2 linked regions of the Homo sapiens genome follow. The protein of the gene in region 1 purifies or fractionates together with the protein of each later gene. This does not show direct contact. Each region holds a gene or a part of one and is shown in the gene's direction. Other genes may lie near its edges.

Region 1 (3,500 bases):
TGTTCACATTCTGTGTTTGATCAGATATGTACCTGCCAAACTTTTGGAGTGAGATAATTAGAATGACAGTAGTTGAAGCTGACAGTGAATTTGAGGTAAAGCTGGAAAGAATGTTTTTGAATTTTGCAAATAATACATTTTCAAGCCAGATTAAAATTGAATAACTTACTTTCTAGCTTCAAGGGGGTAATTAAGTGATCCTCTAACCCAAATTGCTTTTCCAAATTTTGTGGTAGCAGTGAATAAACTGATGCCTCCTGCTTATTTAGACAGCAGCCATTTTTGTTTGGTTTGGTTTGGTTTTGCGGTGATTTTTTTTAACCTAGAAAAAATACAATTTAAAAAGCAATCATGTTGTTTTCTTTGCCTTTGACAGATGTGGCCTTGTCACCACACAGTAAGCCAGAACACAATCCATTCCTGAGTCATAGTAGGATAGTTTGTGTAATTCTAAATGCACTCTCCAGTTTAAGAGTGTGGGTCCCTTTTTTTCTATCTGAAATTGAAGATACAGGTCAGAAAGATGGTTTAATGAATATGAATTTTCTAAACATCTTTTCAGTGTCTTTTAAGGATATTTTTGATATTACAATATAATAAAGTTAAATCATCTAGTCCTCCTGGCCCTTCTGGTTAGAAAATAGAGCGAAATCATCCGTTTAAACACACACACACAAACTATCCCATTAGTTGGTTATACACAAGTTACTTTCATTCTTACTAGTTCACAAAAGGTTAGTAAATTTAGTGATTTAATGAGTTCTTCAAAACATAAAAGTCCTGTAAAGGAAAAGCTAGAGGATGTGAGAGGAGTAATTCATCCCCATCAAAAGATTTTAGCCAAAAGTAGTGGCATAAGAAATTTATTTATGCGAAAGACATAATTTTGGGTGAACTTTCTTGAAGATGGTCAGAAAGGGCATTGTTAAAGGAAGGAGATGGTAGATTTTGGGTTCTGGGTTCTAGGTTCTAGGCTAATAATTTACTACTTTGGTATGTTGCCTTGAGGCTGACATTTGCTGCTCTGCTAAGACTAAAGCTGGCCCTTTCCAATCAAAAGTGTTAAAAGCTGGCTGGGAGCCATGGCTCATGCCTGTAATCCAGCACTTTGGGAGGCTGAGGTGGGTGGATGGATCCCTTAAACCCAGGAATTCAAGACCAGTGTAGACAACATGGCGAAACCCCATCTCTATCCAAAAATATACAAAAATTAGCCAGGTGTGGTGGTGTGTGCCTGTAGTCTCAGCTACTCAGGAGGCTGAGATGGGAGGATTGCTTGAGCCTGGGAGTTAGAGGATGCAATGAGCTGAGGTCGCACCACTGCACTCCAGCCTGGACGACAGAGTGAGGCCCTGTCTCAAAAAAAGAAAAAAGAAAAAAAAAAGTTAAAAGTTGTGGCATGGTGGCTCACGCCTGTAATCCCAGCACTTTTGGAGGCTAAGGCAGGTGGACCACCTGAGGTCAGGAGTTCGAGACCAGCCTGGCCAACATGGTGAAACCCTGTCTCTACTAAAAACAAAACAAAACAAAACCATATATATATTATATATATATATATATATATATTTTTTTTTTTTTTTTTTTTTTTTTTTTTGAGACGGAGTCTCGCTCTGTCCCAGGCCAGAGTGCAGTGGCGCTATCTCGGCTCACTGCAAGCTCCGGCTCCCGAGTTCACACCATTCTCCTGCCTCAGCCTCCCGAGTAGCTGGGACTACAGGCGCCCGCCACCACGCCTGGCTAATTTTTTGTATTTTTTTGGTAGAGATGGGGTTTCACCGTGTTAGCCAGGATGGTCTCTATCTCCTGACCTTGTTATCCGCCCGCCTCGGCCTCCCAAAGTGCTGGGATTACAAGCGTGAGCCACCGAGCCCAGCTATATTTATAAATTTATATATATTTCATATATATATTATATATATATAAAATTAACCGGGCATGGTAGTGAGCCCCTGTAATCCCAGCTACTTGGGAGGCTGAGGCAGGAGAATTGCTTGAACCCAGGAGACGGAGGTTGCAGTGAGCAGACCTGGTGCCACTGGACTCCAGCCTCGGTGACAGAGTGAGACTCTGTCTCAAAAAAAAAGTTAAAAGTTGTTAACTAGATGTCGAATTATTTTCATAGTAATCACCATGTGTAAGCAATTCTCATCTGTGGAATGTTTGACAGGGATAAGATTATTGAAAATTGGGGGGAATTTTCTTAAATATGGAACTAAGAGCTAAAGAGTTCAATGATGATTAAGACCACTAGTCTGGCAAGTGACTTTTATTTGTCCTTTTCTATTGATAATGAATTCTAGGAATATGGATGGATTTCATTAGAGAAATAAAAATGAGCAAGATTTGTGATTCAGAATATTAAAAGTTAAGAATCCATGAATAGCCCCTTAAAAATATTGTCAAAGCATCATGGTATTTGTAGTGGTGCTTAAAAAAGAAGCAGCAGCAGCTGTTCTAAGCCAAGCACTGCTTGAAAACAAAACAAAACAGAACAAAACCTTATATTTAATAAAATGGAGAAATTTGGGAATGTCCCTAGCGTAATAATGCCTTCTACTGACATTTAAAGTCAGCTTAAACATCATTAGGGAAGACTATGACTGTTTCTATGACCTCTAGTCACAAATTTAACTAATTTAAGGTTAACTAATACCTCTTTCAGAGTTGGGCAAAAGAAGAAAAAAAAAGCCTTTATTTGTGATCAGTAAATTATAAATTACACAGAAGCTTCCAGCTACCTGGTATTTGCATGAAGAATTCTAAATTTTTTATATGCCATAATTTTTAGTAATGCTGTCCTTGAATTCACTTACATCTCTGCTCTGGTTTTTTGAAGCTCATTAGGATGATACCTGTCATCTCTTGGAAACACTGGAACTAGAGAACTGGAGGTGTTCACCCCCATTTTTTGCTACATTGTTGAAAACTGAGTAGAATTTTGTGTCCAAAAATCCTTAGTCTGTGATGGAATTTTTTAAAGTATATGTGAAGTTTTTTACTTCTTCAGTTTTTCAAGATAATTTTGCTGTTTTTGCTTTTTATTTATTTGCAACTAGAAATTGCATGTGCCAGTTACTTAATTTAATACATCTAATGGGAGATTCAAAGCAAACCATTAAAACTACCATATAAACTCAAATGAAATTTTATGACATTCTAATGTACATACTCGCCAAGAAATGCTACAAGGAGCCTCTCTGCAAATGCCTGATGGGGCACTCTGAGAATTAAACAGGAAATGGACAGGAAAAGAGGCAAAGCATAGAATAGCCTCTGTGGTATACACACAGACAATGTAAAATCCAAGAAATATAAGGTCCAAGGAGGAATTGGTTATTGAAGTAGAGAACCTCATCATGAGATTTGAGAATAGCTTTAGAGTTACTCTTGGGATAGTGTCTCATGGCCCTGTGAGGGAACTCTACAAATTTTATCCATTTTGCTGGGCAGTTTTAAGAGCTACTTTTTGTCTGTACTTTCCTTAATTTTCATATTATTTC
Region 2 (3,500 bases), on another chromosome or scaffold:
TAGTTTAACCGGGCATGGTGGTACAAGCCTGTCTTCCCAGCACTTTGGGAGGCCGAGATGGGAGGATCTCTTGAGGCTGGGAGTTCAAGACCAGCCTGGGTAACATAAAAAGACCCCATCATTACAGAAAATACAAAAATTAGCCAGGCATGGTGGCATGCACGTGTATTCCCAGCTACTTGGGAGGCCGAGGTGGGAGGATGGCTTTAGCCCAGGAGTTTGAGACTGCAGCGTGCTATAGTCATACCACTGCACTCTACTCTGGGCAACAAAGTGAGACCCTGTCTCTTAAAAAGAAAAAACAAACCAAGTGGTAAAGTCATGGGGAAGTATAACAATGAGTATTATTATCCTCTGTGTTAACCCCAAGGGGAAGTTTCTCCTGCTTTTAATGCATATACACCTAAAAAAAAAGTTGAGAAAAATCACGTAATTGACTTCATAAAGCTTGTGTTAGCACTTGAAGCTCTGTGCGCCTTACCCGCTCCGGCTCCCCCGTCATGGCCTTGCTGGTAAGGGTGGCCTGTCCCTCTGCTCTATGTGGTTTAGGACTCAGCGAATGCTCTCTACACCAAATGCCTCCAGCAGCTTCTGAGGGACTCTCACCTGGTAAGCAGCAGGACTTCTGAGAGGGAGAATTGTGGTGCACCCCCATGCAAATCCAAGCCCTTTCACTGTGCTTTTCTTGCCCTCTAGAAAATGCTCGCCAAGCAGGAGGCCCAGATGAACCTGATGAAGCAGGCAGTGGAGGTGAGGGTGGGGCGGAGTGGCTGGGAGGCACACCCTGTTGCCCGCTCACACCCTGAATGGGGTCTGTTGATTCCACAGATATACGTCCATCATGAAATTTACAACCTGATCTTTAAATACGTGGGGACCATGGAGGCAAGTGAGGTAGGTTCTCAGTTATTATCACCCAAGATGGAAGCCTTCTTCTGTGCTTTTTGAGAAATTTGAAGGTTCGTTAAAATCTGTTGTTAGGATGCGGCCTTTAACAAAATCACAAGAAGCCTTCAAGATCTTCAGCAGAAAGATATTGGTGTGAAACCGGAGTTCAGGTAAGGGTTTGCGCCACAGCGGCTTGGTGTCCTCAGAGGCAGGGGTGCTGTCTTCTCCCGGAAGCAGGCCCTCTCGGTGGCAGAGGTGACACGCTGGTTTGATGTGGTTAGTTCTGAGGAGCAGCGCAGTTACTTGCAACCAAAGATAAAGGGCTGCCCTTTATAGGTGACTGTGTGTGGCCGTCCCCCTCCCACACTGCACCAGCACGCCAGCTGGATGGGAGCCGCTGGGCACGGGGTTTTGTGCAGCTGGTCCCCAAGTGGGCATGTAATTTGCCCATGTGGGTTCTGCGTGCAGGGGACATCCCACCTGCCCACCCAAGGGAACCTTGCCATAGAGATACCTACTTAGGAGTTAATTCATTTCTTTAATTTTTATTCTTTTTGAGACAAAGTCTCACTCTGTCGCCCAGGCTGGAGTGCAGTGGTGTGATCTCGGCTCACTGCAACCTCTGCCTCCTGAGTTCAAGTGATTCTCCTGCCTCAGCCTCCCGAGTAGCGGGATTACAGGTGCACACTACCATGCCCTGCTAATTTTTGTATTTTTAGAAGAGATGGGGTTTCACCATGTTGGCCAGGCTGGTCTTGAACTCCTGACCTCAAGTGATCTGCCCACCCTGGTTTACAAGTGCTGGGATTACAGGCGTGAGCCACTGCGCCGAGCCTAATTTAAGTTTCATTAGGACACAAAAATGTTTCACCTACCACAACCCTCTTTGGGTTGTTTCCCTCTAGGAATAGGATTTTTTTTTTTCAGCTTTTCTTGTACAACTCTATCACCTGGCAGCCTGAATGGGATTGAAGGCTCTTCTGTTTTGCCGCTGACTTGAGTCAGATGACTTCTCAGTATCTGTTTTTGTGTTTCATTCCTTCTGGTTTGTTGTGAGAAGTGTAGATCCTGAGATGTGTTCTTAGATCCAGGCCAGAGGGTTCTCTTACTGTGCTCTGAAGTTGTCACTTTCCAAATTATTTTACAGCTTTAACATACCTCGTGCCAAAAGAGAGCTGGCTCAGCTGAACAAATGCACCTCCCCACAGCAGAAGCTTGTCTGCTTGCGAAAAGTGGTGCAGCTCATTACACAGTCTCCAAGCCAGAGAGGTTTGTGCTTGGAAAGGGGACTGGCCAAGGGGTAGATGCTACATCCAGATGAAAAAGCAAAGAGTGATGCTGTCTTAAGGGATTTTTATGGGGCTGGGTGCAGTGGCTCACCTCTGTAACCCCAGTGCTTTGGGAGGCCAAGGTGGGAGGATCACTTGAGGCCAGGAATTGGAGGTTGCAGTGAGCTATGATCACACCAGTGCACTACAGCCTGGGTGATAGAGTGAGACCCCTTCTCAAAAAAAAAAAAAAAAAAGAAGAAGTAAAAGAAAACAAGTCAAGAAAAAGTCAGTAAGGAAGAGACATAGCTGTATGTGTAGATAAGGGATGATCCTGAGTGTATGGAATGAAATAAACAGGAATGCATATGGTAGACTTCCAGCCAACAGCATCAAAGAATGGGGGATAGCTGTTTAGCCACGATATGATGGTGAGCTCATAGCTGTCCTGGACAGATGTGCAGGAAGCAACAGCAGGAGCCTCTGGGAAAAGAGACTGGCTGGCAGGGATGGGAGGAACATTCACAGTTTGCTCTTTTGTATTGTTTGAATTTTTAAATGTGAATGAATTACTTAAAATTTCAAAATGGAAAAAAAGTGAAACTCCACATGGGCAGTGGACTCCATGTCTATAAAATGGAAGTGACCTTAGGAAGGACCTTGGTGACTTTAGGAAGAAAGAGACTTTAGGTGATGGCTCTGGGCTCATCTTCATTTTTTATCACTGAAGCCACCTCCCTGGGCTCTTTCAGCGTCCAAGGGGGTGGCAAGGCATGGTCTGCTTGGAGTTAACATATTTTTTTTTTTTCTTAAGAGACAGGGTCGGCTGGGCGCGGTGGCTCACACCTGTAATCCCAGCACTTTGGGAGGCTGAGGCGGGCAGATCACGAGGTCAGGAGATCGAGACCATCCTGGCTAGCACGGTGAAACCCTGTCTCTACTAAAAATGCAAAAAAAAATTAGCTGGGCATGGTGGCGGGCACCTGTAGTCCCAGCTGCTCAGGAGGCTGAGGCAGGAGAGTGGCGTGAACCCGGGAGGCGGAGCTTGCAGTGAGCCAAGATTGCGCCACTGCACTCCAGTCTGGGTGACTGAGCGAGACTCCGTTTCAAAAACAAACAAACAAAAAAAAGAGACAGGGTCTCACTCTGTCACCCAGGCTGGGTGCATTTGTAGATCACTACATCCTTGAACTCCTGGGCTCAAGTGATCCTCTTGCCTCAGCCTCCCAAGTACCTGGGATTACAGGCATGCACCACCACCCTTGGCTAATTTTCATATTTTTTTGTAGAGGTGGGGGTCTTGCTATATTGCCCAGGCTGGCCTCAGACTCCTGGCCTCAAGCA

Evidence for each region.
Region 2: the proteins of RAB21 (region 1) and ANKRD27 purify together in Homo sapiens (affinity purification with mass spectrometry; one large-scale study listed by BioGRID and IntAct). This does not show direct contact.

Annotation. Positions count from the first base shown.
Region 1 is NC_000012.12:71,792,863-71,796,362, forward strand, and holds part of RAB21 (ras-related protein Rab-21), read left to right. Parts: 3' UTR 1-3,500. UniProt on the Homo sapiens protein: The small GTPases Rab are key regulators of intracellular membrane trafficking, from the formation of transport vesicles to their fusion with membranes.
Region 2 is NC_000019.10:32,640,681-32,644,180, reverse strand, and holds part of ANKRD27 (ankyrin repeat domain-containing protein 27), read left to right. Parts: intron 1-549; coding exon 550-609; intron 610-696; coding exon 697-750; intron 751-828; coding exon 829-894; intron 895-981; coding exon 982-1,058; intron 1,059-2,035; coding exon 2,036-2,157; intron 2,158-3,500. UniProt on the Homo sapiens protein: May be a guanine exchange factor (GEF) for Rab21, Rab32 and Rab38 and regulate endosome dynamics.